Regions from separate parts of the Homo sapiens genome. Here region 2 is linked to region 1. Evidence: fine-mapped expression QTL. A gene starts in region 1. The other region holds a variant in brackets. All regions are shown on one strand. Distances are from middle to middle. Region 1 holds the start of TRPM4 (transient receptor potential cation channel subfamily M member 4). Region 2 overlaps TRPM4 (transient receptor potential cation channel subfamily M member 4).

The links. PIP is the estimated chance that this variant, and not a neighbour inherited with it, causes the effect.
Region 2: its variant is fine-mapped to the expression of TRPM4 in whole blood (TOPMed, PIP 0.95).

Annotation. Positions count from the first base shown.
Region 1 is chr19:49,154,214-49,166,617 of GRCh38, reverse strand. TRPM4 (transient receptor potential cation channel subfamily M member 4) reads right to left here and starts at 8,826. Exons shown (of 25, transcript NM_017636.4): 1 at 8,728-8,826; 2 at 8,359-8,426; 3 at 403-577. The coding sequence starts at 8,751. It overlaps HRC (histidine rich calcium binding protein), which reads left to right and starts at 11,222. Exons shown (of 6, transcript NM_002152.3): 1 at 11,222-12,404. The coding sequence starts at 11,381. RefSeq lists enhancers at 5-647, 648-1,291, 8,471-9,092 and a silencer at 7,601-7,787.
Region 2 is chr19:49,192,158-49,208,798 of GRCh38, reverse strand. It overlaps TRPM4 (transient receptor potential cation channel subfamily M member 4), which reads right to left. Exons shown (of 25, transcript NM_017636.4): 17 at 11,925-12,359; 18 at 8,367-8,499; 19 at 8,014-8,188; 20 at 6,658-6,835. Among named protein-coding and RNA genes, the nearest start is that of TRPM4, 43 kb to the right of the region's middle. RefSeq lists a silencer at 11,714-12,040. The variant C/T (reference allele first, on the strand shown) is at 9,985.

The DNA.
Region 1 (12,404 bases):
GGACAGAGACCCAGAGAGAGAGGGGGACAGAGACCCAGAGAGAGAGGGGGACAGAGACCCAGAGAGAGAGGGGGACAGAGACCCAGAGAGAGAGGGGGACAGAGACCCAGAGAGAGAGGGGGACAGAGACCCAGAGAGAGAGGGGGACAGAGACCCAGAGAGAGAGGGGGACAGAGACCCAGAGAGAGAGGGACACGGAGACAGAGGGAGACAGAGACAAAGAGACGCAGAGAGAACGGGACCCCCTCAGAGAGAAGATAGGTGGGGCGGAGGGGACAAAGAGAGCCAAGACAGGGATGGGCGGAGGGGCCAGGGTTCAGGGCGGGCGTCCCGGCTCCACTCTGGAGCCCCGAGCATGCAGCCCCCTGGTGCCCGGGCCCCGCCCACAGAGGCCCGCCTCACATTGCTGTGCTTGCGGCCGGCCCCCGTGAAGTCCAGCTCTCCGTAGGCATCGGTGGGCTTCTCCGTGGTGTGTGCATCGCTGTCCCACACGGTCACCACGGCTGCCCCGAAGGCATCCTCCATGGCCACTGCGGGGTGGGCGGTCCGGGGGCGCCCACACTGGCACAAGGTCCCTCTGGGGGTGCGAGGGCGGAGCGTGAACCCAGGGCTGCCCCCCGACCCCAGCACCCTGTCAGCGTGTTCATGCTCCTGTAGAGGGGGCTGTCGACACTGAGTCCACACCCACAGAGGCAGGCAGAGTCCACGCTGCCCCTGGCCCTGGCTCTGACGGCCTCGGGGAGAGACTGGAGCCGAGGACGGTCCCCTTTCCCCACGGGAAGGAAGCCAGTGAGTCCAGAAAGCCTGAGCAGGAAGAAGCAGGTCACTGTCACCTGAGGAGCCTCAAGTGGGAAGGCAGAGGGCCACTGGGGGTATCCTTGCTGTGCCCTGTGCCCCCATCCAAACACATGACGTTCAACACGAGAAAGAACATCCAGCGGGTAACTCAGGGAGAGCCCGCATGCTCGGGGCTGACGCGGCTGTGTGACTTTGGGCGAGCGGCTTCACCTCTCTGAGCCTAAATTTCCTCCTCTAATGAAAAGACAATAATAGCGCGGCCTACTCCACGGAGCTATGAGGAGCCAGGGAAAGAACGCCGTGTTTCCTGAAATGAGGCTCGCATACCAGTCCCAGCCAGAGGCAACGCGACACGAACTTCACACGGAGCTTAAAATAACCTTGAATAACGCAGTGAGAAAGTCATTCCTTTTTCAGTTCTCCTGACGACTGTCAAGGAGAGAGGCTCAGCCGGGTGCTAGAATATTTTTGAATGCCTAACCCTTTGCTACTCTTTTGAACAAGAAAAGCAGGCCTCGGGCTCAAAAAATGGAGCTGGCAACAGCCATCTAGCGAGTAGGGAAACACCTTTGTTTGCTTTTCATTGTCTTTGGCTTCTGTGTGGCTTGTTTCTTCCTCTCTGTGCCAAATGGAACAGGTTTCCATTTGGAAAGTTTCCACATATAAAACTTTCCCCCACCTAAAGAAATGCACAAGTCTCTCTTGCTTTCTAAAGGTGATTGGCACCTGAGTAAGTAACAGGGGTTTGGAGAATGAGAAATTCATTTGAAAATGTAGGGTCGGGTATGATGGCTCATGCCTGTAATCCTAGCACTTTGGGAGGCTGGGGCCAGAGGATCACCTGAACCCAGGAGTTCGAGACCAGCTGTGCAATATAGTCAGACCCTGTCTCTAAAAATAAATAAATAAATAAAATAAAATAAAATAAAATTAGCCAGGTGTGGCAGCATGTGCTTAGGAGGCTGAGGCAGGAGGATCACTTCAGCCTGGGAGATCAAGGCTGCAGTGATGCAGAGAGCTGTGACCACGCCACTGCACTCCAACCTGGGCAACAGAGTGAGACCCTGTTCAAAAAAAAGAAAAGAAGGAAAGAAAAGCAAGCAAGCAAGCAAGCAAGCAAGCAAGCAAGCAAGCAAGAGGCCGGGCGCAGTGGCTCATGCCTGTAATCCCAGCACTTTGGGAGGCTGAGGCGGGTGGATCATCTGAGGTCAAGAGTTTGAGACCAGACTGGCCAACATGGTGAAACACTGTCTGTACTAAAAAAAATACAAAAATTAGCTGGTCGTGGTGGCGGGTGCCTGTAATCCCAGCTACTCAGAAGGCTGAGGCAGGAGAATTGGTTGAACCCAGGAGGCAGAAGTTGCAGTGAGCCATCACACTATTGTACTCCAGCCTGGGAGACAAGAGCGAAACTCCATCTCAAAAAAAAAAAAAAAAAAAAAAAAAAAAAAAAAACTAAGGAAAGAAAGGAAGGAGGGAGGGAGAGAGACAGAGAGGGAGGAAGGAAAGGAAGGAAGGAAGGAAGGGAGGGAGGGAGGGAGGGAAAGAGAGAGAAAGAAAGAGAAAGAGAGAAAGAAAGAAAGAGAGAGAGAAAAGAAAAGAAAAGAAAGAGAAAGGAAGAAAGAAGGAGAAAAATGTATCTAAATTCTTTGTTCCAGATTCCAGGAGTTCAGATATCAGGGGAGACCTGTATTTACACAAACCTAGTGAGCAGATTTAAGAGCAATTTTACAGAAGGGATAGCAGAGGTGCTACAAGGATTTGGCAAAAGCCGTAAAGACACTAAAAGAACGGCTAACTGATCCACACATGGGATGAACCAAACACACTTAGGCCAGGTCCTGGCACAGTGAGAACTACAATAAAGTGTCTTCTTCATTCCTGAGTCTACCTCCAGGGCCCTGGCATGCCTCAGTTTACCGACTTTGTCCGTTCACCCATTTCAGCTCCATCCTTGAATCCCCTAGTTCCCCTGCAGCTACTTCCAACACCTGCAGCTACTTCCCAGAAAGTTTGCTCTTCTGAGCAAAACTTCAAGGACGGCTGGGCACAATCCAAGCACTTTGGGAGGTCAAGGCAGAAGGACTGCTTGAGCCCAGGAGTTTGAGAACAGCCTGGGCAATAGAGCGAGACCCCATCCCTACAAAAAAAATTGTTTTAATTAGCCAGGTGTGGTGGTGCACGCCTGTGGTTCCAGCTACTCAGGAGGCTGTAGCAGGAGGATCACTTGAGCTCAGGAGTTCAAGGCTGCAATAAGCCATGATCACACCACTGCAGTTCAGGCTAGGCAACAGAGCAAGACCATGTCACTAAAAATAAGAAATAAGGCCGGGCATGGTGGCTCATGACTGTAATCCCAGCACTTTGGGAGGCCAAGGCGGGCGGATCATGAGGTCAGGAGTTCGAGACCAGCCTGGCCAACATAGTGAAACCTTATCTCTACTAAAAATACAAAAATTAGCCGGGCATGGTGGTACGCGCCTGTAGTCCCAGCTACTCAGGAGGCTGAGGCAGGAGAATCACTTGAACCTGGGAGACGGAGGTTGTGATGAGCAGAGATTGTGCCACTGCACTCCAGCCTGGGCAACAGAATGAGACTCTGCCTCAAAAAAAAAAAAAAATAATAATAATAAAATAAAAGCTCTTCACGGAATAGTCTGGAGCTTGTACTGTCCAATGTGATAGCTGCATGGGTTCTTTGTAGCCATGGAGCTCTTTCTGTTCTAATAAGTTAAAATTAAATCAAATAAAAAATTCAGGTCAAGTGCAGTGGTTCATGCCTGTAATCCCAGAACTTAGGGAGGCCAAGGTGGGCGGATCACCTGAGGTCAGGACTTTGAGACCAGCCTGGCCAACATGGTGAAACCCTGTTTCTACTAAAAATACAAAAATCAGCTTGGCATGGTGGCGGGTGCCTGTAGTCCCAGCTACTCGGGAGGCTGAGGCAGGAGAATGGCATGAACCCGGGAGGCGGAGGTTGCAGTGAGCCAAGATTGCACCACTGCACTCCAGCCTGGGCGACAGAGCGAGACTCCACCTCAAAAAAAAATTCAGTTTCTCAGGTACAATGGCCATATTCCAAGTGCCCAGTAGCCCCCTGTGGCCAGGACTGCCATATTGGATGTAGACATAGAACGTTTCCAAAATCGTGGAAAATTCTGACATTCAGTGCTAGGAGCCATTCCTTCTGCACAGCTTGCCTCCTACACTCTTTCCTCGGTGGAGCCACAGAAACTGAAATAAATTGTTTTTTTGTTTGTTTGTTTGTTTTGTTTTGTTTTGAGATGGAGTCTCGCTCTGTCTCCCAGGCTAGAATGCAGTGGTACGATCTCAGCTCACTGCAACCTCTGCCACCTGGGCTCAAGCGACTCTCGTGCCTCAGCATCCTGAGTAGCTGGGATTACAGGCATGTGCCACAGTACCTGGCTAGTTTTTGTATTTTTAGTAGAGATGGGGTTTTACCACATTGGCCAGGCTGGTCTCAAACTCCTGACCTCAAGTGATCAGCCCACCTCGGCCTCTCAAACTGCTGGGATTACAGCTGTGAGTCACTGTGCCTGGCCTGAAATTGTTCTTGATAAAAATCATCAATTTCCTGCCTGGCTCCATATACAACGGCCCTTATTCAGGTTTCATCTGACTGTATCACAAGTGGCCCTGGCTACAGCTGAAAGGCTCTCATTCTGGAAACCCTCTCCTTGGCAGGATACCCCTGCCCCTCTGGCCTTCCTCCCCGCCCCGGCTGCTTCATGCCTGACTTGTTTGTGGCTTTCTCTTGCTTTTCACCTCCCTTGAGTGTAGGTGTTCCCAGTGCAAGCCTTCCCTACATGATTCTCAAACCCAATGTGTGCAGAGGCCAGTCAAGTAACTCAACAGAAAGAAGTAGCCAGGGCCAGGAGCAGTGGCTCACACCTGTAATCCCAGCACGTTGGGAGGCCCAGGTGGGCAGATCACTTGAGGTCAGGAGTTCGAGATCAGCCTGGCCAACATGGTGAAACCTTGTCTCTACTAAAAGTACAAAAATTAGCCAGGCGTGATGGTGGGTGCCTGTAATCCCAGCTACTCGGGGGGCTGAGGCAGGAGAATCGCTTGAACCCAGGAGGCAGAGGTTGAAGTGAGCCGAGATCGCACTACTGCACTCCAGCCTGGGTGATAGAGCGAGACTCCGTCTCAAAAAAAAAAAAGAGGTAGCCGGGTATGGTGGCTCTCGCCTGTAATTCCAGCACTTTGGCAGGCAGAGTGAGGTGGGAGGCTCACTTGAGTCCAGGAGTTGGATACCAGCCTGGTCTGGTATCAAAGGGAGACCCGGTTTCTACAAAAAATTTTAAAATTAGCCAGGCATGGTGGTGCATGCCTGTGGTCCCAGCTACTCCGGAGGCTCATGTGGGAGGATCGCTTGAGCCCAGCAGGTCAAGGCTGCAGTGAACCATGATCGTGCCACTCCAGCCTGGACAACAGAGCAAGACCCTGTCTCAAAAAAAAAAAAAAAAAAAAAAGAGAGAGAGACAGAAGACAGATATTTTTAAATGCTCTTCTAAACACACACACACACAAACACACGCACACAATTGGCTATAGAATTGCCAGTTTGCAACTCCCCTGACTTTACACGTTGTTTTCCCTGTGACGTCTTACCTACTTCCAGTTTCAATTACCAGCTACAACTCGGACCTCTCAGATTCTGGACATTAGTCCAGACCTTTCCCAATCTCAGTCCCCACATGCCCCTCGGTCCCCCTAGGCCGCTCATATGCACAGATTCCCACATTGCACTCAGCGACATTTCCCAAACCTGCTTGCCCTCCTGAGCTCTCCATCTCAGGGACAGCCCCACTGTGTCCCAGTCAGCAGAGCATACGTCCCGGAGCCATCCACCGATGGCGGCACCCCCTCTCTCCCTCATCACCCTCATCAAGCCCCAAGCTCTGCCTTCCTGCCCCCTGAGTCTTTGCCCCATGCCCTCCTCTCTGTGTCCCGAAAGCCCTGACCTGGCTCAGGCCACTACCCCTCCCGCTCAGACGCTCTCTACAGCCTCCTCCCGAGCTCCTGTTCATCCTCTCCCAGCCCCAGAAAGTTTTTCCACACCCAGAGCCAACCCCACTGCTGCGGTGATGCCCCAGCTCCCAAGGACAAGATCCCAGCCCCTTAGGGTGGCCTCTGACACCCTGCAAGCTCTGGCCCTGCCCTCCTCTGCAGCCTCTTCTCTCATGACAGTGCTCCCTGCACCCTGAACTTTGATTCATATTCAAGCCAAACCATATGGTCCTTAGCAAGGACTTTGCACATGCTGTTCAAATCACTTTTTTCTTTCTTTCTTTCTTTTTTTTTTTTTTTTTGAGATGGAGTCTTGCTCTGTCACCCAGGCTGGAGTGCAGTGACGTGATCTCTGCTCATAGTAGCCTCCGTCTCCCAGGTTTAAGTGATTCTCCTGCCTCCTGAGTAGCTGGGATTACAGGCATGCGCCAATACGCCCAGTTAATTTTTGTATTTTTAGTAGAGATAGGGTTGCACCATGTTAGCCAAGCTGGTCTCGAACTCCTGACTTAGGTGATCCACCCGCCTCGGCCTCCCAGATTGTTGGGATGACAGGCGTGAGCCACAATGCCCGGCCCCAAATCGCTTTCCATGGGCCTCTCTCCAGCTCACTTTCAAATGTCACCTCACTAGCCACTCTTCCTCCCTCCAGAAACCATTAGTGACATTTTGTGTCCCCTCCCAGTCTTAAGCAAACACCTCCTCCCAGCTCTCACAGAGCCCAGTGGCTCGTCTTTGGGAGCTGCAACCCCTTGCCTTACTATAATTATCTTCTGCGTTTCTTCCTCCTCAGGCCAGACCAGAGTTTCCTAAATTGTCTTGACCACACTGACCTATCAGTAAAAAGGTTTTGAGCACTCACGTCCAACAAGCGCATATCTGTTTATTTATCCATCATTTACAAGCCATACTGCACTAATATATAGTCATAACAAAATACACACTGAAGTAGGAATGTGGATACTTCCCGCACCCCAAAAACTGTCTTGAAAAACAACTAGAGGGCTGGGCGCGGTGGCTCACACCTGTAATCCCAGTACTTTGGAAAGCCAAGGCAGGTGCATTGCCTGAGATCAAGAGTTCAAGACCAACCTGGGCAACAGGGTGAAATCCCGTCTCTACTAAAATACAAAAAATTAGCTGGGCATGGTGGTAGGCACCTGTAATCCCAGCTACTAGGGAGGCTGAGGCATGAGAACTGCTTGAACCCAGGAGGTGGATGTTGCAGTGAGCTGATATCGCAACACTGCACTCCAGCCTGGGCGACAGAGCCAGACTCTGTCTCAAAAAAACAAAAAACAAAAAACTAGAAAGCCTGGGCCAGGTGCGGTGGCTCACACCTGTAATCCTAGCGCTTTGGGAGGCCGAGGCCGGCGGATCATGAGGTCAGGAGATCGAGACCATCTGGCTAACACGGTGCAACCCCGTCTCTACTAAAAAAAAAATACAAAAAATTGGCCCAGCGCGATGGCTCACGCCTGTAATCCCAGTACTTTGAGGGGCTGAGGCGGGCGGATCACAAGGTCAGGAGATCGAGATCATCCTGGCCAACACGGTGAAACCCCGTCTCTACTAAAATACAAAAAATTAGCCGGGCGTGGTGGCGGGCGCCTGTAGTCCCAGCTACTCGGGAGGCTGAGGCAGGAAAACGGCGTGAACCCGGGAGGCGGAGCTTGCAGTGAGCCGAGATCGCGCCACTGCACTCCAGCCTGGGGGACAGAGCGAGACACCGTCTCAAAAAAAAAAAAAAAAAAAAAAAAACTAGAAAGCCTGGATCCGCTTGAGAGGCCGTCACTGAAGGGCGGGAGCTCCTCGCGGACGCACACACCCTATCTAGCTCAATTGGTGTCCCCGGCCACCAAGACAGGGCCCGCCCGCGGTAATAATTGCCACCTCCCAGTGGGAGCTGCAGATATTTCCCAGCGTCCTGTGCTGGGCGCTGTGCCAGGAATATCACAAGCATTAACTTGTTTAATTCTCATAATAACCCCAGGAGATCAAGCCTCTTTTGATGCCCAGATGAGAAACGGGACCCAGAGAGGTGAAATGATTTGCCCGAAGCCACACAGCACGTGTCCCAGGGGAAATTGGAACCCTGGCAGGGCCGTTGAATTAGGCTAAAGGGACCTTGGGAGCGCTGAGTGAGGGTTTCTTGCATGGATGGATGAATGAATGAATGAATGAATGAATGAATGAATGAAACAGAAATACCCAAAAGGGAAAGACAGAGACACAGAAAGTGACACGAAGAGACAGAAGCACATAGAAGAGACATCGGGGAGGAAAGAAGCAGAACCGAGCCCTGGAGCGTCTACACTGACCCTGAGCGGGAGAATGGCGAATGGGGAATGAGGGGTGTCTACACAGACCCAAACGCTCCTAGAGGGAGAGCGTCGGCAAGGAACGCCCTTGGGAAGGTCCCCGAGTCCAGGAATGGGGAAGGAGCAGGGCTGGGGCGTGACCATCCGCGGGCGGGGTCAGCGGGCCGCGGACCCTCTGGGGTCAGTCCAGGGGCGAACTCCTCACCCCGGATCTGTGGAGTCAACTATGAACGTCGTGCAGGTCTTCTTCTTGAAGATCTTGGGGATCCAGCTCTGGGGACAGGAACAAATGTAGGGGTGGAAGTGGGGTGAGAGGGCACCCAGTTCTGTCCTATGGGACACAGAGCCACCCACCCCGTGCGCTCCCCACGGACACAGGAGTCCGGGCCCCCAGCGCCCTCCCGCTCCAGACTCAGGAGTCTCGACCCCCATGCCCTGGACCCTGGAACCTGGACCCTCCCATCCCCCTCCTCCGTCTGACCCAGGAATCTGGGTGTCCAGCGCCCTCCTCTCTGGGAGCCTGGAGGCGAGGTCCCCAGCTCCGCGCTCCCGCAGACCCTGGTCCGGCGCTCACCTGCTCCTTCTCCGGCACCACCATGCTGCCGCGGCCGCCGCAACCTCCTGCAGCCCAGGGCCCCGGCGCTCCCTCCGCCGGCTCTGCTTCCAGACCCGCCCAGAGCAAACCGGATCCTCCACTTTCCAGCCTAGCCTGGGGCGGGGCGAGGTCTGGGGGGCGGGGAGTCTTGGAGACGCCAAAGCGGGAGGCGGGGAGAGGGCGGGTCCCAGGCCGCGATAAGGGGACAGAGGGACAGCGACCTGGGGGGTGCAGAGGTCCGGGCCGGGGGGAGAGAGACACACAGGGGAGACTCCAAGGGCAAGCGCGAGATGGGAACAGAAGGAGTTGGGGGCCAGTGGCGGAGAGGGAACAGACTCAGAAAGGAGGATGCCAGACAGGGAGGGGACAATTTAACCCAAAGAGGGGGAGACAAAGACTTAGGGGACAGAGAATCAGAAGGTGGGGCAGCAGGGACCCAGGGATAGACAGAGAGAGAGGGGGACAGAGACCCACAGAGAGAGGGGGACAGAGACCCAGGGAGAGGGGACAGAGACCCAGAGAGAGTGGGACAGAGACCCAGAGAGAGTGGGACAGAGACCCACAGAGAGAGGGGGACAGAGACCCAGGGAGAGGAGGACAGAGACCCAGAGAGGGGGGGACAGAGACCCAGAGAGGGGGGGACAGAGACCCAGGGAGGGGGGGACAGAGACCCAGGGAGAGGGGACAGAGACCCACGGAGAGGGGGACAGAGACCCAGGGAGAGGGGACAGAGACCCAGAGAGAGGGGGACAGAGACCCAGAGAGAGGGGGACAGAGACCCAGAGAGACGGGGACAGAGACCCAGAGAGAGGGGGACAGAGACCCAGAGAGAGGGGAACAGAGACCCAGAGAGAGAGGAGGACAGAGACCCAGAGAGAGGGGGACAGAGACCCAGAGAGACGGGGACAGAGACCCAGAGAGAGGGGGACAGAGACCCAGAGAGAGGGGAACAGAGACCCAGAGAGAGAGGAGGACAGAGACCCAGAGAGAGGGGGACAGAGACCCAGAGAGGGGGGGACAGAGACCCAGGGATGGGGGGACAGAGACCCAGGGAGAGGGGACAGAGACCCACGGAGAGGGGTACAGAGACCCAGGGAGAGGGGACAGAGACCCAGAGAGAGGGGGACAGAGACTCTGAGACAGAGGGGGACAGAGACCCTGAGAGAGGGGGACAGAGACCCAGAGAGAGGGGAACAGAGACCCAGAGAGAGAGGGGGACAGAGACCCACAGAGAGAGGGGAACAGAGACCCAGAGAGAGGGGGACAGAGATCCACAGAGAGAGGGGGACAGAGACCCACAGAGAGAGGGGAACAGAGACCCAGAGAGAGGGGGACAGAGATCCACAGAGAGAGGGGGACAGAGACCCAGGGAGAGGGGGACAGAGACCCAGAGAGAGGGGGACAGAGACCCAGGGAGAGGTGGACAGAGACTCTGAGACAGAGGGGGACAGAGACTCTGAGAGAGAGTGGGGACAGAGACCCAGAGAGGTGGATGCCAGAGATGGGGAGGAGACACCTTGACTGAGGCAAGGGGCAGAGGGGGATGCAAAAACCAAAGAATTGGGGGAAGGGCAGGAACTCAGAAAGGAGGGGCCAGAGATTTAGGGGAGAGAGAGGGACACAGACTTGGGGGAGGACTGACACTAAGATAAGAGTGGGACAGAAGCCCAGAGTGAGAGGGAGAGGCAATCCCATGGAGGAGGGACAGGGACCCTGAGAGAGCAGATGACAGAATTGAAGAGAGAGGAGGACCCGTGAACAGGAAAGGAGACCCTAGTGGGGGCAGTCATGAAGGGTGAGGAGTAGGAAATACTGACACACAGAGACGGGCAAGGCCACTTGTCTCCTGCCAGCCCTCTGTGATGGGGACAGCTGTGGCCTCCGTAACCTGAGTCCCCCTACCCCTCCCAGCTGTATTTATAGCCCTGGCCTAGCCCAGTCCCTGCCCCCAGATCTGAGTTCCAGGGACAGGAGGTCATGGGCACGTGTGTTGGGGGCCATGTTCCTTTCCCCCCATTCTAGGGCCTCAATACTGACATCACTCTCTCACCAGCACGTATCATTCCAGCTGGAAACACCCCGCAATCGAACCCCCAGTCCTTCCGTCCCAGGAGTCTCTCCCCTCTGATAAGTCTCTTCTGCCTCCCCCAGGTGCCCCAGGCTCCCCCAAAAACCTGCTAAAAGTCTAGCCTTTGTCTTTGCAGCTGCCAAACGTGAGCTTGTTGGTAGTTCAAAGTCAAGTCCCTTGGCCACCGTCTCCTGGCCAGGGAGAGACCCCTCACTGGTCCCCTCCCCAGCTGGGAGGAGGAGGAGCAGGAGGCAGGCAGGCGGGGACTGACCCAGAATAACTCAGGGCTGAGAGTAAATTTAGCTGGAGAGAGGGGAGGGGAAGGACCCTATTGGCTGGGGAATGGGGAGGGAGGGCCCCAGAGGGGGGTCAGGGGGCTCCGGAGACAGCCTCAGAGGGGTGTCCAGAGCCAGGCAGCAAGGACCAGAGGAAGGTGGACAGAGACCGAAAGGACAAAGGAGAGACACAGAGAAAAAAAGAGACCAACCCCAAAGGGACAAAGACCCCAACGTTTGTCCACATTGCCGCAGAGGCAGCTGGAGCCAGTGCTGCCTGTCCGTCCCCATGGGCCACCATAGGCCATGGCTGCACGCTTCTGTCCTCTGGGCTGGGGTGGCCAGCCTGCTCCTCCCCCCGGCCATGACCCAGCAGCTCAGAGGGGATGGGCTAGGCTTCAGAAACCGGAACAACAGCACTGGAGTCGCCGGGCTCTCCGAGGAGGCATCAGCAGAGCTTCGCCACCACCTCCACAGCCCTAGAGACCATCCAGATGAGAACAAGGATGTTTCCACAGAGAATGGGCATCATTTCTGGAGCCACCCAGACCGTGAAAAGGAGGATGAAGATGTCTCCAAGGAATATGGGCACCTACTCCCAGGCCACAGGTCCCAAGACCACAAAGTCGGAGATGAGGGTGTCTCAGGTGAGGAGGTCTTTGCAGAGCATGGTGGGCAGGCCCGTGGGCACAGAGGCCACGGGAGTGAAGACACGGAAGACTCAGCTGAGCACAGGCACCACCTCCCCAGCCACAGGAGCCACAGCCATCAAGACGAGGATGAGGATGAAGTTGTGTCCAGTGAGCATCACCATCATATCCTCAGGCATGGACACCGAGGCCATGATGGGGAAGATGATGAAGGAGAAGAGGAGGAGGAGGAGGAGGAGGAGGAAGAGGAGGCCTCCACTGAGTATGGACACCAGGCCCACAGGCACCGAGGCCATGGGAGTGAAGAGGATGAGGATGTCTCAGATGGACACCATCATCATGGCCCCAGCCACAGGCACCAAGGCCATGAAGAAGATGACGATGATGATGATGATGATGATGATGATGATGATGATGATGATGTCTCCATTGAATATAGACACCAGGCTCACAGGCACCAAGGCCACGGGATTGAAGAGGATGAAGATGTCTCAGATGGACACCATCATCGCGACCCCAGCCACAGGCACCGAAGCCATGAAGAAGATGACAATGATGATGATGATGTCTCCACTGAGTATGGACACCAGGCCCACAGGCACCAAGACCACAGAAAGGAAGAGGTTGAGGCTGTCTCAGGTGAACACCACCATCATGTCCCTG
Region 2 (16,641 bases), 40 kb before region 1:
TTTAGTAAAGATGGGGTTTCACCATGTGTGGGCGGCAAGCCACCCAGGTGCCAAGGCAAGAGACCGAGGGCACAAGCTGTTCCAGTGTAATAAAACATATAAAATAACAAGAGTTATACTAGATATAGATCATAGATATGATTATATATGAATATCAATCATTAGTTTGTAGCAATTACTCTTTATTTCAATATTATAATAATCCTTGCTTTACAATCATAACCTAGGAAAAACCAAGCCATACAGAGATAGGAGCTGAAGGGGCATGATGAGAAGTGACCAGAAGACAGAGTGTGAGCCTTCTGTTATTCCTGGACAGGGCCACCAGAGGGCTCCTTGGTCTAGCGGTAACGCCAGCATCTGGGAAGATTCCCGTTACCAAGCGGACCGTGGTCTAGAGGTAGCGTCAGTGCCAAGGAAAAGCACCCACTACTTAGCAGACCGGGAAAGGGAGTCTCCCTTTCCCCGGGGGAGTTTAGAGAAGACTGCTCCACCACCTCTTGTGGAGGGCCTGACTGATGTCAGGCCCGCCCGCAGTTATCCAGGGGCCTAACCGTCTCCCTGTGATGCTGTGCTTCAGCGGTCACACTCCTGTTTCACTTTCATGTTCCACTCTGTACAGCTGGCTCTGCCCTCTAGATAGCAGTAGCAAAATTAGTGAAAGTATTAAAGTATTAAAGTCTTTGATCTTTCTTAAAAGAGCATAGAAGAAATAATGATGTAAGCTGTCCTCTCTCTCTCCGCCTTGGCTACCTAACAGGGAAGGGCCCCTGTCCAGTGGACATGTGACTCACGTGACCTTATCAATCATTGGAGATGACTCACACTCTTTACCCTGCCCCTTTTGCTTTGTATCCAATAAATAACAGCGCAGCCAGGCATTAGGGGCCACTGTCGGTCTCCACGTCTTGGTGGTAGTGGTCCCCCAGGCCCAGCTGTCTTTTCTTTGATCTCTTTGTCTTGTGTCTTCATTTCTACAATCTCTTGTCTCTGCACACGGGGAGAAAAACCCACAGACCTTGTAGGGCTGGCCCCTACAACCGTGTTAGCCAGGATGGTCTCGATCTCCTGACCTCATGATCTGCCCACCTCGGCCTCCCAAAGTGCTGGGATTGCAGGCTTGAGCCACCATGCATGGCTTTTTTTTTTTTTTTTTTTTTTTGAGACAAGGTTTCACTCTGTTGGTGGCACAATCATGATGGTGGTGAAATCATGGCTCACTGAAGCCACAGCCTTGACCTCCTGGGCTCAAGCCTTCCTCCCACCTCAGCCTCTTGAGTAGCTGGGACTACAGGCATGCACCACCACGCCTGGCAAATTTTTTATTTTTTTATTGAGATAAGGTCTCACTATGTTGCCCAGGTCGGTCTTGAACTCCTGGCCTCAAGTGATCCTCCCACTTTGGCTCCCTAAAGTATTGTGATTGCAGGCACAAGCCACCATGCATCATAATTTTTAAAAATCGTAAACTAGGAATAGAAATAAACTTTCTCAACATGAGAAAAGGTACTTCTGAAAAACCCACAGCTACCGTCATACCCAATGGTGAAAGAGTGAAAGCTTTCTGCCTAAGATCAGGGACAAGACAAGGATGTCCACTTTTACCACTGCTATTCCACATTGTGCTGGAAGTTCTGGCTAGAACAATTAAACAAGAAAAAAAATAAAAGGCATCCAAATTGGAAAGGAAGAAGTAAAAATATCTCTATTCACAGATGACATGATCCTATATATAGGAAATGCCAGAGAATCACAAGAAAGCTTCTAGGGCTGCAGATTCAGCAAAGTTGCAGGGTACAAGATCACACAAAAATCAGTTGTGTTTCTACACACCCGCAATGAACAATCCAAAAAGGAAATTAAGAAAGCAATTCCACTTACAACAGTATCTAAAGGTTAAGCACCTAGGAATAAAGTTAACCAAAAGGGTGAACAATTTGTAGCCTGAAAACTACCAAATACTGCTGGAAAAGCATTAAAAAGAACACCTAGATGAAATATCAATACTACCCGAAGCAATCTACAGATTCAACGCAATCCCTCGGAAAATTCCAACAACTGGCCGGGCGCGGTGGCTCACACCTGTAATCCCAGAACTTTGGGAGGCCAAGGCGGGTGGATCACCTGAGGTCGGGAGTTCGAGACCAGCCTGACCAACATGGAGAAACCCTGTCTCTACTAAAAATACAAAATTAGCCGGGCGTGGTGGCACATGCCTATAAGCCCAGCTACTCAGGAGGCTGAGGCAGGAGAATCGCTTGAGCCCGGGAGGCAGAGGTTGTGGTGAGCTGAGATCGCGCCATTGCACTCCAGCCTGGGCAACAAGAGTGAAACTCTGTCTCAAAAAAAAGAAAAAAAAAAAAGGAAAAAAAAAGAAAATTCCAACAACCTTTTTGACAGACATGGAAACTCTGATCTTTAAGTTCATATAGAATTGCAGGAGGCCCAGAATAGCCAAAACAATCTTGAAAAATAACAAAGGAGACTCATACTTCCAATGTCAAAATTTGCTACAAACCTACAGTAATCAACACTGTGTGGGCTAGACATGGTGGCTCACGCCTGTAATCCCAGCACCTTGGAAAGCCGAGGCAGATCACCTGAGGTCAGGAGTTCAAGACTAGCCTGGCCAACATGGTGAAACCCTGTCTCTACCAAAAATACAAAAAAATTAGCCGGGCGTGGTGGCAGGTGCCTGTAATCCCAGCTACTCAGGAGGCTGAGTTAGGAGAATCGTTTGAATCCAGGATGCGGATGTTGCAGTGAGCAGAGATCGTGCCACTGCAATCCCGCCTGGGTGACAAGAGCGAGACTCCGTCTCAAAAAAAACCCAAAAAACTGTGTGGTTCTGGCATAAGGATAGACGCAATCCAGTGGAATAGAATTGAAAGTCCAGAAATAAACTCATAAATCTATGAGTGTCATGCATTGAATTGTATCCCGCTAAAGATATGTTGAAGTCCGGCCGGGTCCAGTGGCTCACGGCTGTAATCCCAGCACTTTGGGAGGCCGAGGCAGGTGCATCACCTGAGGTCAGGAGTTTGAGATCGGCCTGGGCAACATGGTGAAACCCCGTCCCTACTAAAAATACAAAAATTAGCTGTGTATAGTGGCAGGCACCTGTAATCCCAGCTACTCGGGAGGCTGAGGCAGGAGAATCCCTTGAACCCAGGAGGTGGAGGTTGCAGTGAGCCGAGATCACGCCATTGCACTCCAACCTGGGTGACAGAGCAAGACTCTGTCTCCAAAAAAAAAAAAAAAAAAAAAAAAAAGTTGAAGTCATAACCCATAGTGCCTCAGAATGAGACCTTTTTAAATTTTTTATTTATGAAATATGTGGCTTTATTCGGAAATAGAGTTTACACATGTGATCAAGTTAAAATGAAGTTATTAGCATGGTCCCTAATCCAATTTAAGTAACGTTTTATTAAAAGGGGAAATCTGGAAGATGAAAGCAGAAGTTTCAATGACGCAACTAGAAGCCAAAGATGGCCAGCAAAGCACTAGACGTGACAGGAGGGGCATGGAACAGACTCTCCCCGACATCCCTCAGAAGAAAACAGCTTGACGGATGCCTTGATTTTGGACCTCTAGCATCCAGAATTGTGAGACAATTTCTGTGATTTAAAGCCACACAGTTTTTGGTACTCTGGCGGCCCTAGGAAACTAATACAATAGGTCCAGCACAGGGGCTTGTGCCTATAATCCCAGCACTTTGGAAGGCCAAGGCAAGAGGACTGCTTGAGCCCAGGGGTTCAAGATCAGCCTGGGCAATATAGTAAGACCCCATCTCTGAAAAAAAAAAAAAAAAAAAAACAACCAAAGCCAATGAAATTTTATATTTTCTCAGCAAAAATCATGCCAACAAGAAAGGAAGCAAACAGAGAGACCTAACATAGGATTAAAAAGGAGTTTCATTAAAAAAAAAAAAAATAGCCGCTGGGCACGGTGGCTCACGCCTGTAATCCCAGCACTTTGGGATCCAGCCGAGATGGGTGGATCACAAGGTCAGGAGATCGAGACCATCCTGGATAACATGGTGAAACCCCGTTTCTACTAAAAATAAATAAATAAAATAAAAGTAAAAAAAAAATTAAAAAAACAAGCCAGGTATGGTGGCACGTAACTGTAGTCCCAGCTACTTGGGAGGCTGAGGTGGGAGGATCACTTGAGCCCAGGAGGTTGAGGCTGCAGGTGTGAAGTGGTATCTCATTTCTGGTGTTTTGGTAGAGACAGCAGCCTCGCTATGTTGCCCAGGCTGGTCTCGAACTCTTGTGCTCAAGCAATCCTCCCACCTCAGCCCCCCAAAGTGCTGGGATTACAGGCATGAGCCACTACACCCAGCTGGATGACTATAATTTTTACAAAAGGAAAATAACAAGTGTTGGCTAGGATGTGGAGAAATTAAAACCCTCATACACTGCTGGTGAGAATGGAAAATGGTGCAGCTGCTGTGGAAACCAGTTTGGTGGTTTCTCAAAAAGCTATACATAGAATTACCACATGACCGAGGAATTCCACTTTGAGATACACACCCAAAGGAAATAAAAACAAGGATTCAAATAGATACTTGCATGCCAATGTTCCAACAAACATTAGTCACAATAGCCAAAAGGCAGAAAGAACCCAAGTGTTCATCAACAGATGAGCGGGTAAATCAAATGTGGTCTTCTTTTTTTGAGATGGAGTCTCGCTCTGTTGCCCAGGCTGGAGTGCAGTGGCACGATCTTGGCTCACTGTAGCCTCCGCCTCCTGGGTTCAAGCGACTCTCGTGCCTGAGCCTCCCAAGTAGCTGGAATTACAGACATGAGCCCAGCTAATTTTTGTATTTTTAGTAAAAAGGGGGTCCTGCCACGTTGGCCAGGCTGGTCTCGAACTCCTGACCTCAGGTGATCCACCCGCCTAGGCCTCCCAAAGTGCTGGGATTACAGGCATGAGCCACCACGCTGGGCCCAAATGTGGTCTATTTGTACAATAGAATATTACTCATTCATAAAACGGAATGAATGAAGTTCTGATGCACACTACAACAGGGATGAGCCTTGAAAACATGCTCAGTAAAATCAGCCAGACACCAAAAGACAAATATCGCATAATTCCACTTACATGAAACATCTAGACTAAATCCATAGAGACAGAAAATACACTGGAGGTTACTAAGACCTGTGGGGAGGGGAAGTGGGGAGTTGCTGTTTCATGGGGACACACTTTCTGTTCTGGGTGATAGAACGTATTGAAAATAGATAGTGGTGATGGTTGGAGAGTACTGTAAATGTAATTAATGTCACTGACTTGTACACTTAAAAATGGTAAAAATCAACTCCGGCCGCGGTGGCTCATGTCAGTAATCCCAGCACTCTGGGAGGCCAAGGCGGGCGGATCACAAGGTCAGGAGATCGAAACCATCCTGGCTAACACGGTGAAACCCCATCTCTACTAAAAATACAAAAAATTAGCCAGGTGTGGTGGCGCACGCCTGTAGTCCTAGCTACTTGGGAGGCTGAGGCAGGAGAATCGCTTGAACCTGGGAGGTGGAGGTTGCAGTAAGCTGAGATTGCACCATTGCACTCCAGCCTGGGCGACAGAGCGAGACTCCATCTCAAAAAAAGGCGGGGCGCGGTGGCTCACGCCTGTAATCCTAGCACTTTGGGAGGCCAAGGCGGGTGGATCACGAGGTCAGGAGATTGAGACCATCCGGGTTAACACGGTGAAACTCCGTCTCTACTAAAAATACAAAAAAATTAGCTGGGCGTGGTGGCGGGCACCTGTAGTCCCAGCTACTCAGGAGGCTGAGGTAGGAGAATGGCGTGAACCCGGGTGGCGGAGCTTGTAGTGAGCTGAGATTGTGAGATCGTGCCACTGCACTCTAGCCTGGGTGACACAGCGAGACTCCGTCAAAAAAAAAAAAAAAAAAAAAGAAGTAAAAATGGAAAATTTTATATAATTTTACCACAATAAAAAACAAAGTTGGCTGGGCGCGATGGCTCACACCTGTAATCCCAACACTTTGGGAGGCTGAGGTGGGCCAATCACTTGAGGTCAAGAGTTCAAGGCCAACATGGTGAAACCCTATCTCTACTACAAATACAAAAAATTAACTGGGTATGGGGGAGTGGGAAGTGGAGGTTGCAGTGAGCTGAGAACTTGCCACTACACTCCAGCCTAGGTGACAGATTATCCCAGCACTTTGGGAGGCTGAGGAGGGAGGATCACTTGAGTCCAGGAGCTCGAGACTAGCATGGACAACATAGTGAGACCCCTCTCTCCAAAAATTTTTTTAAATTAGGCAGGCCTGCTGGCCTGGCTAATTTTAAGTAGTCCCAGCTACTTATGGGGCGAAGGCAGGAGGATTGCTTGAGTCCAGGAGGTCGAGGCTGCAGTAAGCTACGATCACATCACCACACTCTAGCCTTGGCGACAGAGTGAGACCCTGTCTCAAAAAAATACAAATAAGGAAGTTCAACCTGGGCTCAGGGAGAGGATCAGTCCAAAGTCCAAATTACAAGCAGGGTCTGGTTGGGTTTGGGGAGAAGGCAGCATTAGATTGGATCAGAGTTCAGGGACTAAAAACAGAATTCATTAGACGGGGTTCAAGAGTCATGAGAGGGCCACGGGTCATGCTGGGTGGGGTCAGATCAGAGAGCAGTCAGGCCTCACCTGAACATGGCAATGAGCAAGTTGACCAGCAGGATGTTGGCCACGAGCAGGAAGATGACGAGGAGCAGCACCACCAGCCAGTTGGCATACTGGGAGACGCAGGTGCCCGCCTGGGCCCCAGGAGGGTGTGCCCAGAAGCCGGGCTCCGACGAGCAGTTGCTGTGCTCCATGAGGGCCACTGTGAAGAGAGACATTCAGAGATGGGGTGAGGGGGACAGAGACCTAAGAAAGACAGGAAGACTGCCGGGCGCGGTGGCTCACGCCTGTAATCCCAGCACTTTTGGGAGGCTGAGATGGCCGGATCACCTGAGGTGGGGAGTTTGAGACTAGCCTGACCAATGTGATGAAACCCCATCTCTACTAAAAACACAAAACTGTTAGCCAGGCGTGGTGGCACGCGCCTGTAGTCCCAGCTACTCGGGAGGCTGAGATAGGAGAATCGCTTCGATCTGGGAGGTGGAGGTTGCAGTGAGCTGAGATCGTGCCATTGCACTCCAGCCTGGGCAACAAGAGCAAAACTCCATGTAAAAAGTAAAGTACAGGTTCCTCTTCAAAGACTTTCCTCCCCATCTAATTAACAATAAATAGTAACTTCTCTTAGAAACAAAATTTATTCAAACACCTGTGCTAACATTCTTAAATATCTACTAGCCATAAAAAATAAATCAATGTACTTTATGTTCTTAGCTCTCACAATTTAGCCTAAATATTTGCCCTGACATACTTATACTGGTTCAAGCAAGCATTAGATCATAGCCTGTTCCTCTTCCTTATTTAAAAGTGTTTTTACCTTTCTCAACATTCCACAAGTTACTTCCTCCTTCCTTTGTTCTCCTCTGCCTTCGCTTCTTTTAAAAACTTCTAAGTTACTAGCCAATCAAGACAAATACAAAATGTAAAGTCCGGTTCCAGCCAATAAAAACCAGACACAGCAGTAAAATAGACGCGTCAGGTTATAAATGACCCTATCTCCTTTGTTCCGTGTACTCTCATGACAAAACTGCTGGCGAGTGTACCCTTTCTACAAAAAATAAAAATGGCTTTACTAAAAAAATTAAATTTATGTTCAAGTACTATTTCTTTACGACACCACAAAATAAACATTTCTAACATCCATCTCAAAAAAAAAGAAAAAAAAAAAGAAAAAAGAAAGACAGACAGAAAGACAGAGGGGGTGGGGTAGGCAGAGACCCAGAGAGATGATGATGGGGAATATAGGGTATCACTCAGAGATCCAGAGAAAGAGGGAGACAGAGACTCAGAGAGACAGATATTTTCTTAGAGCCAGGAGGACAGAGACCCAGGGAGCGGGGACAGAGACTCAGAGGAAGGCTGTCAGGCCGTCATCCCCCCTACCGTCCATGTCCTCCTGGGGAATCTGCCCGAAGATCTGCAGGTAGGGACGGTAGAAGACGCGGCGCAGGATACTTGGGAAGTCACTGTCCCGTGGCCTCAGGAGCCCCTCCGTGGCCACGCCATAGGCTACCAGCCACACGCCGAGGAAGAAGAGGAAGAAGAACACGTCCTTCATCTGTGGGGAGATGTGGCTGAGTCTGGCCCCGCCCTTTCCTACTCTGGCCCCACCCCTATATCCCAAAAACACGCCCCATTGCTCCCCAAAGTCACGCCCCTTCTCCACGGACCACTCCCTCCCTGGCCCCACCCCTTTCCCTATGTCCCCGCCCACTTTGGCCCCGCCCCTGCCTCACCATCTTGCTCACGATGACGATCTTGGGCCCCAGCTGTTTGTTGACCGTGAAGATGTGAAGCAGCCGCACCGTGAAAACCATGAAGTCGATGCAGAGGACAGTGCGGCCCAGGTGGTACAAACCCGGGGTCAGCCTGGGGTGTGGGGAGATGCCACAAGGGTCAAGTGTCACAAGACGCCAAGGAAAATGGAAGTCTTCCCAATGCCATCCTTCAGAGGAAGCTGCAGCCTCCACCGGGCAGGACCAGGACCCTCCCAGTCACCCGGGGTTTACTCAAATTTATTCAGTACCAAGCTGGTCCATGCAGGGCCCTGGCACCCATTTTTAAAATGGCTGCGCCTATTAAGTAATGACTGAATGAACGATGGCCTTAGCAAAGAGCTGGTCCCTGTAAGAATCAAGCTGGAAAAACTGCCGGAATATCTGTCCAACCTATAAAAGGCAAAACATATAGAGTCCTTACAAACTAATACGCAAAAGGAAGGAAGCCAGATAAAGGATACCACGTACAATTCACAGAGGACGTTCAAACGGCCAGTAAACATCAATAATTCCTATGGGGAAAATAAAAATTCTACCCCTATTTTGCATCCTCATGTACTTAAACTTTGGATGGATTAAAAACCTAGTGTATGGACAGACGCGGTGGCTCACGCCTGTAATCCCAGCACTTTGGGAGGCCGAGGCAGGCTCAAAAAAAAGAAAAGAAAAGAAACATACAAAAGTGAAAGTGAAAAGACAAGCCACAGACTTCGAGAAGATATGAAGATATTAAGACCAACAAAACTACCGAGGATTAGGATCCAGAGTATAAGGAGTATATACATTTATACATATACAAATCAATGAACCCCAATTAAAAAAACGGGAGGGTGGCCGGTCGCAGTGGCTCACGCCTGTAATCCTAGCACTTTGGGAGGCCGAGGCGGGCGGATCACGGGGTCAGGAGATCGAGAACATCTTGGCTAACACGGTGAAACCCCGTCTCTACTACAAAATACAAAAAATTAGCCGGGCGTGGAGGCAGGCACCTGTAGTCCCAGCTACTCAGTAGGCTGAGGCAGGAGAATGGCGTGAACCCGGGAGGCGGAGGTTGCAGTGAGCCGAGATCGCGCCACTGCACTCCAGCCTGGGCTACAGAGCGAGACTCCGTCTCAAAAACAAAAACAAAAACAAAAACCAAAAAAAAAACAAGGGGGCACAAGGACATATGGCCATTAAGCTTAGGAAAAGATGTCCAACCTATCTGGTAGTCAAGAGTGCATAAATTATAACAAGGAGAGGTCATGTTTACCCATTAAATTGGCAAATTTTTTTTCAGTTAAATTGAGAGCTACATTTTAGAGTGAAAGTATCAGGCATTGTCGAGCATGGCCTCAAGGGGGCACTCTCTTACCCTGATGGCAGGTGTGGAAATGAGTGAAGCTACTTAGAAGGAAATCTATCCATGTCAAAAATAAATGTACCCTTTGACCCATAAACTTTACATCTGGGATGTAAACTTTTATTATTTTGGAATAATAAAAAAACAGAAGGCTGAGCATAGTAGCTCACGCCTGTAATCCCAGCACTTTGAGAGGCCAAGGTGGGAGGATTGCTTGAGCCCTGGAGTTTGAGA[C/T]CAGCCTGGGCAACAGAGTGAGACCCTGTCTCTATTTAAAACAAAAAAAGAAAGAAAGAGAGAACCTAAATGTCCATCTAGAGGGAACTGGCGAAACAAAGGATGATTCATCCATTCAATTCCGGAGATGATTAGACATTTCTCCCTTTTTTTTTTTTTTTTTTTTTTGACAGAGTTTTGCTCTTTTCACCCAGGCTAGAGTGCAGTGGCATGATCTTGGCTCACTGCAACCTCCGCCTCCCAGGTTCAGGCAATTATCCTGCCTCAGCCTCCCGAGTAGCTGGGATTACAGGCGCCTGCCACCATGCCCGGCTAATTTTTTGTATTTTTAGTAGAGATGGGGTTTCACCATGTTGGGCAGGCTGGTCTCAAACTCCTGATCTCAGGTGATCCACCCGCCTCGGCCTCCCAAAGTGCTGGGATTACAGGCATGAGCCACCACGCCAGGCCCGTTTCTCCCTTTTAAGCTGAGATCTTTCCATTTTTCACCTGGAAAGTGGTAGGCTTGATAAACTGTCCAAAATATCACTGGCAATCCTAGAGCATGGTAGCATATGGCCTTAGCCCTTTCATCTCAAAAGTCACTTTATACAAAATACAACAAATTACAAACAGAAGTATTAGTGTTCTGCAAAACTCTCATATCTTGCTCCCTGCTTGAATAAATTATTTATGTTGAATCACTTTGTAACACTGCTAACATAGCTTAGAGGAAGCCTGCCTCTCAGCGTGTCTACTGGGAAAAGCTTGAGTAGGGATCATCACTGTCATCACTGTCAACCATTCAGGATGTGTCAGGTCCCTTGTAAACAGTCACCAGGTTGTTGGCCAGGCACGGTGACCCACATCTGTAATCTCAGCACTTTCAGAGGCTAAGGCCAGTGGATCACTTGAGGCCAAGAGTTCAAGACCAGCCTGGTCAATATGGCAAAGCCCCATCTCTACAAAAAAAATACAAAAAAAATTTAGCTAGGTGTAGTGGTGCATGCCTGTAATCCCAGCTACTCACGAGGCTGAGGCAAGAGAATCGCTTGAACCCAGGAGGTGGAGGTTGCAGTGAGCCAAGATCGTACCACTGCACTCCAGTCTGGGCGACACAGCGGAACTCTGGCTCAAAAAAAAAAAAGAAAAGAAAGAAAACAAAAACAAACAAACAAACAAAAAACCAGTCACCAGGTTGTATCCACAAACTTTTCTGTTTGCTCTCCTCAAAAGGAGGAGTATCCTAATGCAGGATACTCCATAATGCAGGCAGGGCAAGGGTTAAACCCTTAGCTTGGAGGGATGGAAGGAAGCATAGAAGGAAGGAAGGAAGGAAGGAAGGAAGGAAGGAAGGAAGGAGGGAGGGAGGCAGAGGGGCAGAGGACAGAGGGAGAGAGAGAGAAAGAAAAGAGAAAAAGAAAAAGAAAAGAAAGGAAAAGAAAAGAGAAAGAAAGAAAAGAAAGAGAGAGAAAGAAAGAAAGAAAGAAAGAAAGAAAGAAAGAAAGAAAGAAAGAAAGAAAGAAAAAGAAAGAAAGAGAAAGAAAGAAAGAAAAAAAAAGGAAAGAAAGAAAAAGTCGGGGGCAGGAGGGCAAGGGGCCTGGGACCAACGAGCTATGTGGAGGAAGAGAAGGGAGGAGGTGAGGTTGGCACCCAGGTCGGGGCGCTCCCATAAATATCTGTTAAACTTCAGGCCTAGCAATAAATAGCAGCAGAGGCTGAGTGGCGGACAGTGGGGTTTTCTCCTGAATCCTGCCGTCCCTGAAGCCAGATCTCCAGGTGCCAGCCAATTACCCTGGGGCAATCGTCATGCCCGACTTTCCTAAGAGGGGTTCTCAATCAGCAGGGTTGGCTTGACCTGCTGCCCAGCTGCGGGGAAGCCGGGAGTGGAGACCCCGGGAGTGGGCAGGAAGGATGAGAGGTGGCCAGGGGCCAGGGTTCCAAGGCCCCGGGGCACTCACCGGCAGCCCACGCCCAGGAGGAAGCAGGTGAGAGCCACTAGGTCGCACTGGTTCCAGCTGTCGGCGAGGTAGAGGCGCAGGCGCTGGCTCAGTGAGGCATGGCCAGGCCCGGGGCCCCCGCTGGCGAGGCTGCCCCCGCCTCCGCTCAGGCCCTGGCGCAGTTCCTCGCACAGCAGCGTGAAAGCCCAGAAATAGAGCAGCAGCTCCAGGGAGCCGGGCGGCGCCGGCTGGAAATCCACGAGCAGCACCCGCGAGAAAAGCAGCAGGAACAGCAGGTAGCTGACCACGTTGCCCATGAAGATGGTCACCGGCGCGCCCCAGAAGTGGAACCAGCGGCGTAGGCACCGGCGCCCCCCGCAGCGGCCCCCGCAGCAACCCGGACGGCCCGACTGGCGCGGGACCCCCAGCGGCGTCTTCTCGGCTGGGTCCGCCGTCCTGTGGGGGAAGAGAAGAGAAGGGAGGAGGCCTCACTCTGACCTCTGAGTCCTGATCTCCACCATCATCGAGACTTTTGGCTTGGCACATCTCACCCTGCCTGACCCGAAACTCAGTCTGCCCAGAGCTAATTTCTTGGGTTTTGACTCTTGTATCTAACCTCTGACCTCTGAAATCTCCGGTCAAGAGGTGGATTGATCGCTTGAGCCGAGGAGTTGGAGACCAGCCTGGCCAACATGGCAAAACCTCATCTCTACAAAAAATATTTTAAAAATATACCCGGATCGGGCGCGGTGGCTCACGCCTGTAATCGCAGCACTTTGGGAGTTAAGGCGGGCAGATCACCTGAGGTAGGGAGTTCGAGACCAGCCTGGCCAACATGGTGAAACCCTGTCTCTACTAAAAATACAAAAATTAGCCGGGTCTGGTGGCGCATGCCAGTAGTCCCACATACTCGGGAGGCTGAGGCGGGAGAATCGCTTGAACCTGGGAGGCAGAGGTTGCAATGCACTGCAGCCTAGGCGACAGAGTGAGACTCTGTCTCAAAAATAATAATAATAATAATAATAAAATAAATAAAAATAAAAATTTAGCCAGTAGTAGGGGCAAGCACCTGTAGTCCCAGCTACTGGGGAGGCTGAAATGGGAGGATCACTTGAGTACAGGAGGCCCAGGCTGCAGTCAGCCATGAACATGCCACTGCACTCCAGCTTGGGCAATAGAGCGAGACCCTGTCTAAAAAAAAAAAAAAAAAAATTAAAGTAGAAACGGGCTGGGCGCGCTAGCTCACGCTTGTAATCCCAGCATTTGGGGAGGCCGAGGCAGGCAGATCAGCTGAGGTCGGGAGTTCGAGACCAGCCTGACCAACATGGAGAAACCCCGTCTCTACTAAAAATACAAAATTAGCCTGGCGTGGTGGCGCATGCCTGTAATCCCAGCTACTTGACAGGCTGATGCAGGAGAATCGCTTGAACCCGGGAGGCGGAGGTTGTGGTGAACTGAGGTCGCGCCATTGACTCCAGCCTGGGCAACGAGAGCAAAACTCCGTCTCAAAAAATAAAAAAATAAAGAAGAAGAAGAAGAAAAGACCATAGAGTGCATGGCTCCACTTATGTGAAGTGTGCAAAACAGGCAAACCCAGAGACAGCAGGTACATGAATGGTGGCCTAGGGCTGGGAAAACGAAAAGCAGTGCTAAGCATGTACAGAGTTTCTTGTTGGAGTGATGACAATATTTGAAAATGAATTGTGGAAATGATTTCACAATTCTGTGAGTACACCAAGAAGCACTGAATTGTATACCTTAAGTAAGTGAACGGTATGATATGTGGATTACAGCTCAATAAAGCTGCCATTTAAAAAAAAAGAAAAAAAAGTGAGGCTGGGCGTGGTAGCTCAAGCCTGAAATCCCAGCACTTTGGGAGGCCAAGGTGAGCAGATTGCTTGAGCCCAGGAGTTCAACACCAGCCTGGGCAACATGGTGAAACCCCATCTCTACAGAAAAAAAAAAAAAAATTAGCCAGGTGTGTTTATACCTGCAGTCCCAGCTACTCAGGAGGCTGAGGCAGGAGAATCACTTGACACTGGGAGGTTGAGGCTGCAGTGAGCCAAGATCAAGCTACTATACTTCAGCGGAGGCAACAGAGTGAGACCTTGTCTCAGAAGGGAGGAAGGAAGGGTTGGGGGGAGGGAGAGAGGGAGGGAGGGAAGGAGATAGAGAAAGAAAGAAAAGAGAGGGAGGAAGGAAGGAAGAAAAGAAGGAAGGAAGGGAGGGAGGGACAGAGAGAGAAAGAGAGAGAGAAAGAAAGGGAAGGAAAGAAAGGAAGGAAGGAAAGAAAAGGAAAGGAAAGGAAGGAAGGAAAGAAGGAAGGAAGGAGGAAGGAAGGAAATAAGTGAGGCCAAGCGCAGTGGTGTATGCCTGTAATCCCAGCACTTTGGGAAGCCGAGGTGGGAAGATCACTTAAGCCTTCGAATTTGAGACCAGCCTGGGCAACATGGCGAAACCCCATCTCTACAAAACATATAAAAATTAGCCGAGCATAGCATGCATCTGTAGCTACTTGAGAGGCTGAGGTGGGAGGATGGCTTAGCCTGGGAGGTTGAGGGTGCAGTAAGCCATGATCGCGCCACTGCTCTCCAGCCTGAGTGACAGATCAAGATCCTGTCTCAAAGAAGAAGAAAGGAGAAGGAGAAGGAGGATGAAGAGAAGGCAGAGGAGCAGGAGGAGGAGGAGCAGGAGAAGGAGGATGAGGAGAAGGCGGAGAAGCAGGAGCAGGAGGAGGAGGATGAAGAGGAGGAAGAGGAGAAGGAGGATGAAGAGGAGAAGTAGGATGAGGAGAAGGCGGAGGAGCAGGAGCAGGAGGAGGATGAAGAGGAGAAGTAGGATGAGGAGAAGGCGGAGGAGCAGGAGCAGGAGGAGGATGAGGAGGAGGAAGAGAAAGAGGATGAGGAGAAGGAGGAAGAGGAGGAGGATGAGTAGGAAGAGGAGGAGAAGGAGGAGGAGGATGAAGAGGAGGAGGAGAAGGAGGATGACGAGGAGGAGGAGAAGGAGGATGACAAGGAGGAGGACAAGGAGGAGAAGGAGGAGGAGAAGGAGGAGAATAGTGAAAGCTACAGAAACTAAGAACTCCTAGAGAAAGAAGGTCAGATGCAGAGAGGACAGCAAGCTCCCTACTGATAGAGAAAACCATCATGGTATTTCACAGTTCTCCTGCAGAATCCTGGTAAGAAGGGAGAGCGGTGGGTCAGAAAGCTTCCCCCACATCTGCCATCTTGAATCACCTCCAGCCAGGCCACAGGCAGGTTCCTGGGCTCAGCCCCAGCCTCTCTGGGGGGATCTTGGGATCTGTCCTTCAACAGAGCTCTCAGTGGGGGGGCTCCACAGGGGCTGAGAGCACAGACTCAGGTACAAGAGGATCTGGGATCAAATCTCGGCTCTACCATTTACCAACCACATGATCTGAGGCAAGTGACTGAATGACTCCATTATTTCACCTGCAAAATGAGAATAATTATAGGCCCTATTGCACTGGGTTGTTGGAATTAAACGAACTGATTTCCGGACGGGTGCGGTGGCTCATGCTTGTAATCCCAGCACTTTGGGAGGCCGAGGCGGGCAGATCACGAGGTCAGGAGATCGAGACCATCCTGGCTAACACGGGGAAACCCCAGCTCTACTAAAAATACAAAAAAATTAGCCGGGCGTGGTGGCGGGCACCTGTAGTCCCAGCTACTCAGGAGGCTGAGGCAGGAGAATGGTGTGAACCCGGGAGGAGGAGCTTGCAGTGAGCCGAGATCATGCCACTGCACTCCAGCCTGGGCGACAGAGTAAGACTCCATCTCAAAAAAAAAAAAAAAAAACCAACTGATTTTCAAAAGAATTGAGCACAGTAGTTGCTCATTGTACGTGTTTCATAACATCAGCTGTTATCAAGGTCGTCATCATCATCACATGTGCAGATGAGAAATTGCTAGGGAAGGACACCATTACTGATCCTGACCTCAGACACTGGGGCCTTCTATCAACCTTTCTCAGTGGTCCAAATGTTTATCTTAGTTTTTCCCTTCTCTCTTGATACATATTTTGTTCTTTTTTTTATTTTTTGACGTTTATTTTTAGTTCAGAGGTACATGTGCAGGTTTGTTAGGTAGGTAAATTTGTGTCATGGGGGTTTGTTGTACAGATTATTCCATCACCCAGGTATTTAGCCTAGTACCCACTAGTTATTTTTCCTGGTCCTCTCCCTCGCCCTACCCTCTGTCCTCCAATAGGCCCCAATGTGTGTTGTTTCACTCTGTGTGTCCATGTGTTCTCATCATTTAGTTCTTACTTATAAGTGAGAACATGGGGTATTTGGTTTTCTGTTCCTGTTAGTTTGTTATGGATAATGGCCTCCAGCTCCAACCATGTCACTGCAAAGGAAATGATCTCGTTCTTTTTTATGGCTACAGATAAATATTTTGTATCCTCTCTACATTGTCTTAAAAAACTATATATAGGCCAGGCATGGTGGCTCATGCCTGTAATCCCAGCATTTTGGGAGGCTGAGGAGGACAGATCACAAAGTCAGGAGATGGGGAGCATCCTGGCCAACATGGTGAAACCCCGTCTCTACTAAAAATACAAAAAAATTAGCTGGGCGTGGTGGCAGGTGACTGTAATCCCAGCTACTTGAGAGGCTGAGGCAGGAGAATCGCTTGAACTCAGGAGGCGGAGGTTGCAGTGAGATGAGATCGCGGCACCGCACTCCTGCCTGGCGACAGAGCAAGACTCCGCCTCAAAA